Regions from separate parts of the Homo sapiens genome. Here region 1 is linked to region 2. Evidence: fine-mapped expression QTL. Tissue or cell type: whole blood. Region 2 holds a variant in brackets; the other region holds the start of a gene. All regions are shown on one strand. Distances are between the middles of the regions.

Evidence for each region.
Region 1: it holds the start of FAM81B, and the variant in region 2 is fine-mapped to the expression of FAM81B in whole blood (INTERVAL, PIP above 0.99). The same link has a PIP of 0.9 or more in blood mononuclear cells.

Annotation. Positions count from the first base shown.
Region 1 is chr5:95,389,718-95,392,647 of GRCh38, reverse strand. FAM81B (family with sequence similarity 81 member B) reads right to left here and starts at 1,282. Exons shown (of 10, transcript NM_152548.3): 1 at 1,135-1,282. The coding sequence starts at 1,258. It overlaps LOC105379089 (a long non-coding RNA gene), which reads left to right and starts at 1,476. Exons shown (of 3, transcript XR_948586.1): 1 at 1,476-1,578. RefSeq lists an enhancer at 1-122.
Region 2 is chr5:95,412,697-95,415,626 of GRCh38, reverse strand. FAM81B (family with sequence similarity 81 member B) reads right to left here. Exons shown (of 10, transcript NM_152548.3): 4 at 1,437-1,680. Among named protein-coding and RNA genes, the nearest start is that of FAM81B, 23 kb to the right of the region's middle. The variant G/A (reference allele first, on the strand shown) is at 1,544.

The DNA.
Region 1 (2,930 bases), 23 kb after region 2:
CCTCACTTATCCCAATTCTCCCCCATCCCCCCATAACATCTATAGTTAGCTAGAAGAGCATTTCTTTACAGATACTTCTATAAGACCTTTAGAAACTTTTTTAGGATCAGACAGCTCTAAAATAATCAGGAATGTATTTTTTTTAAATTATACTTTAAGTCCTGGGATACACGTGCAGAACATGCAGGTTTGTTACGTAGGTATACACGTGCCATGGTGGTTTGCTGCACCCATCAGCCCATCATCTACATTAGGTATTTCTCCTAATACTATTCCTCCTCTAGCCCCCAACCCCCAACAGGCCCCAGTGTGTGATGTTCCCCTCCCTGTGTCCATGTGTTCTCATTGTTCAACTCCCACTTGTGAGTGAGAACATGTGGTGTTTGGTTTTCCGTTCCTGTGTTAGTTTGCTGAGAATGATGGTTTCCAGCTTCATCCATGTCCCTGCAAAGGGACATGAACTCATCCTTTTTTATGGCTGCATAGTATTCCATGGTGTATATGTGCGGCATTTTCTTTATCCAGTCTATCATTGATGGGCATTTGGGTTGGTTCCAAGTCTTTGCTATTGTGAACAGTGCTGCAATAAACATACGTGTGCATGTGTCTTTATAGTAGAATGATTTATAGTCCTTTGGGTATATACCCATTAATGGGATTGCTGGATCAAATGGTATTTCTAGTTCTAGATCCTTGAGGAATCACCTCACTGTCTTCCACATGGTTGAACTAATTTACACTCCCACCAACAGTATAAAAGCGTTCCTATTTCTCCACATCCTCCCCAGCATCTGTTGTTTCCTGACTTTTTAATGGTTACTATTCTAACTGGCATGAGATGGTATCTCATTGTAGTTTTGATTTGCATTTCTGTAATGACAAGTGATGATGAGCTTTTTCTCGTATGTTTTGGCTGCATAAATGTCTTCTTTTGAGAAGTGTCTGTTCACATCCTTTGCCCACTTTTTGATGGGGTTTTTTTTTCTTGTACATTTGTTTAAGTTATTACTCTGTTGTGCCCAAGCCTTCTGAGGGTCTTCATTGGGATTCATTATTTTGTTTATATGTAATAAGAAACAGAAGAAAGATAGTGAAGTAGGAGAAATTTAGAGACCTCGAATAGTCCATAAGTACCTGAACTCATGATGCTTGCTTTTCCAGCTTTATTTTTTGTAGATTTGATATTTTTGAAAAACAATCTCTGTGATTTTTTTCTTTTTTCTGAGGAAGCCAATGTACCAAGGAATTGTAATTGCATCCTAACTAAGGTCTTCCTGTTTCTGGGGCCTCTTCCCAAGGGTGACTTAGTAGCATTGTGACTGCAGGAAGGATCTATGATGTCAGTGTGGCTGGCCCTCACAACTGAAGTCAGGAAATCCCTGGGATTTAGAAGCTTTGAATGTTTTCTGTAGTGCTCATCATCATACAAATCACTAAGCCTTTCACTTCTTTGTCTCATGGGGTGGGAAGTGGCCATTGTTATACTGATATTTCACACTCTTCTCCTGATTTCATCTTCACAGTTTGAAAAGTGACGAGTTATCATCAAGCTAGACAAAGAGGAAATGAAATGCTGCGGTATGCCCAAATCTTTCTCCAAGTATGTTAGGGAGGAAGCTAACTCTTCTAGGTTAGAAGGGGACTTCACAGATAGTGCAGCACTGATGAAAAGTGACATGGGTCAGAGTTTTACAGAAATGAAAATATTGAACTTTGCCTTTGTAGGGGAAATTTTGTTCAGTTATTTAGCCAAAAGGGGGTGGATTGTTTTAGCTGTAAAATGTTTGTCTGAGTTTTAAAATTAGAATTTGCATGTTTGTTAGTACTACTTGGCCTCCATATACAGAAATGATGCTTTGGCTAAGTTGTTGTCCAAATTATGGTATCAGATTTGCCTTGTTTAAAGGCACACAATGTTCAGGATGCTGAGTGACAAACTTTGATCCCACAGATAAAGGACACCTATGATTTGGGCTTCCATGCATATCCCCTAGTCCTAAGCTAAGCCCTTAAAACTCAAAGATGCAGTAGTTCATGGTTTGCAAGCAGTCCAAAAGGCTCATTATGCTACCCTAATCACCATTGTATCTAGTGCCAAGGGAGACTGACACACAGCAGTGACTAAGAGCAGGTGGCTACAGATTCTGAGAGAGTGGATTGGAACCCTGACTCCTCAACCTACCAGCTGTTTAGTTTGGACAAAATTACATCACCTCTTTAAGCCTCAACTTTCTCCTCTGTGAAATGAGCTAATAATATCGATCCCATAAGATGGTTGAGAGGATTAAATGTAATAATATACTTACAGCGCTCAGCTGAGGGCGGTGCCAGGAATCCACTAAAAGATAACTATTATTAGCGATTATTTCACAAGGTGCCAATTATCCAAGAAACAGTCACAAGCAGAGTCTGTGTGAGAAAGAAAAACTAGATTTAACCTTGCTTAACAACTTTTTAAGATTCTTTCTCTTCTTAAATTCAGCTTTTAATCCATGGTATTTGGTTAGAAAAATGGGCCCTACTAAAATGGACAATTTTGGTAGGTTTGTTCTCTAAACATAAATGGCTATTCAATTTTAACATAACAATGCACATAATATATATGTATATTATTAATGTCTGCTCTGGTTTGAATCTCTCCACCAAAACTCATGTTGAAATGTAATTGCCATTCTTTTTTTTTTTTTTTTGAGTTGTAGTCTTGCACTGTCACCCAGGCTGGAGTGCAATAGTGCGATCTTGGCTCACTGTAAGCTTGGCCTCCCAGATTCATGCCATTCTCCTGCCTCAGCCTCCCAAATAGCTGGGACTACAGGTGCCCACCACCACACTCGGCTAATTTTTTGTATTTTTAGTAGAGACAGGGTTTCATCGTGTTAGCCAGGATGGTCTCGATTTCCTGACCTCGTGATCTGCCCACCTCGGCCTCC
Region 2 (2,930 bases):
GCACAGGGCTGCTTGCCTCTTGTCACTTTCATGATACTTCATTATGCATGGAAATACCTTTAATCACTTTGAGAGTGGCATTGACCTTTGAAGCACTGAGGTCAATTCAAAATGTGCTAAATACCAATAAAGTGCTTTTTAAAAGTTCACTGAGAGTTTTAACTTTTCACACTGCCTCAGGTACATTATGGGGTCTGTTAAACCCTGCAGATGGAAAATGAATTAATCAATATCCTTGCCCTTAAGAACAAATTCACAAAGGAGTAATTGCTGGTTCAATCCCATAATTTTAATAAAATCCAGTATTCTCTTTGATAGTAGAAAAGGACAAGTATCGTGAGACTGCATTGTTGTCAATTCTCATGATAACTCCACAAGTTTTGGGCCAGTTTCCTAAAGTACACTATCTGTAGCCCTTGCATGAAAATTGTTAACCCAGATTCATCACGTACATCTGCACCCTAGCAACTCTCGAAGACCTCTTACACAAGCATGTTTCTCTTGATTTAGACAAAGAATTTTCTTTTTTTGATGAGAAACTCTATTTTTACTCTAATGCCTTAAAATTAATTAATTTATTCATTCATCAATTTAAGGAATATTTAGAGTGCTGACTACAACACCACTGTTGTCTGGTATGGGATATGGGATTTAGCATGAAGAAAACAAACTCTTTGACTTTATAGAGATTATATCTTAGAAAGAGAAAACAAACAGGAATCAAATATAGACCATGGTAGTTTGCAATGAGTGCTATGTGACAAAAAAAATAAAGTAGGCTTTAAGGGAGATTGAAACCATGTGGGTAGAGGTGCTATTTTATAAAATGTCATGCAAATCCTCTGTTACGAGGCTATATTTGAACAGAAACCTGGAGGAATGAAGCACGTTGCATAGGAATATCTAGGGGAAGATGATCCAGCCAGAGTGAATTATGAGTGCAAAGACCCCAAGGCCAGAATGTGTTTGGAATGTCCTAGGAACAGCTGGGAGGCCAGTGTGGCCAGAGTGAAGGAAAGAAGGGTAGAAGACGGGGCTAGAGAAATTGCTGGCATCAGATTGCAATGGCTATACAATGGAGCGTTACTGATGTGCATTATGAAAACCTCTATTTGAAGTTATTGCATTAATAGAATCTTGGAGATTTAGGCTAACATAAGCATCTTAGCACAATGTCTGACATAATGTCTTTGTTGTCACAAAATAAATATACAGTAAATATTTTTTGAATAGAAGTTCCTTCTACTTTTTGGCATAAATGAACAGCTGAAAAATTGAACTGTTTCCCTCTTAGACCACTAAAATGTAATCATCTAAACTTAAGCAATAGTGATATATTTCTGCACTTGAAAAATGACACTGATGGTTGATAATCTTTATCAAGCAATGCTGCCAAAATACAAAACAAAAACAAAATAAAACAAAAAGAGAACTACCTCAATATTTTGGCTGAGTTTTTTGACGATGCTGGTGATGGTCTGGATGTGGCTTTCCAGTAACTTCCTGGCGAGCGATTCCTCTTTTCGAAAGCCATGGGTCCCCT[G/A]CAGGCAAGCAGAGATGTCCTCCTTGATGCGGAAGGCTTGTTCAAGAAGGAAAGCTATGGTACGCGCCTGGTTGTTCAGTCTGTCTTCTAGCTGACCTCTCTGGGTGTTTGGAATGATGGGGAGAAAAGCATGACTCCTGATCAGAAAAAGGAAAAGGAAACACCAGGGCATTACAAGAATGAGCTGGAGGAGCCAGGAACCAGAACTAGAATCCTCACTTCTGATCCTTTATTTTTGCCCTGTGAGAAGTTTGATAGGATTTTAAGCACTTGCCATGGTTAGAATTTGGTGAAGGTCTCATCTAAGAAGCAGATGCACTTTTCATGCTTCAAGCCAATTGGTGGTAGTTAGGAGTGGGTAGAGGCATTCATGAAAGAAGATGTTAGAAGCCTTCTTCCAAGACTGACGCCTTTATATACCCCTTATGAAAATTCTACTTTAACGTAGAAAAAATTAAGTTTTTATAACTATAAAGATGCAAAAGTGACTGTGTTAGAGAGTTTTCCAAGGTGTGAGTCCTGGAATAGGAGTCAGGAGGATAGGCCACCACAAAAGAATTCTATGATCAAATACACTTAGAAAACCTTGCATATGATGTCTCTCCCTTAGAGATTCACATTGTACATTTTCATATTGTCTAACAGAATTATTCTAATTTCATAGTTAAGGAAATTAGTTCATGAATGGTACCAATCATAATCCCAAAAGACATAATCTCAAACATTGAAATTCCTAAAGTTTAAAATCCCTTGACTGGATTAAGGGATACCTAGAACCTGGTGTAGCAGTGTATCTTGTGAGGGTGTTTCCAGAGGAGATTAGTGTGTGAGTCTGAGTGCACAACGTGAGAAAGATCTATTCTCAATGTTTTGAGTGTTTCGAAAATCATAGAAAAAGTAAAAACACAGGTGAAAAATATAACAAATGTCCCCTGTCAAATGATTCAATCATGTATGACTTCTGCCCCTTCACACATAGTGCCATGCTTGCCTTCAAAAAACACTCTTCATCAGAGAATAAAAAGAATTCCACAAGCTGAGCAACATTCTGAACCAAAGATGCTTGCCGATATAGAGGTTCCTCCAGTGTTCTGAAACTCATTGAGTGATGAAATATTCTTAGTTTGGGATTTGACTGTCAAAGAAGATAGACTTCCTATATTTGCCACTAAATCTAACATAGACAACCTAGTGCATCCTTCACTTTGGCTGAGGAATGACACTTTGAAAATCGTCCCCATCTTTCTTATCAACTGTATGCCATCATGCCCCAGTTGGATCCAAACATTCTTGAACTTACCTGCTTCTTTATATATTAATGACTGGAAAAAGTAAAGCACTTTATAAACATTTATTTGAAGATTTGGTGGACTTTGCAGAAGAAAAT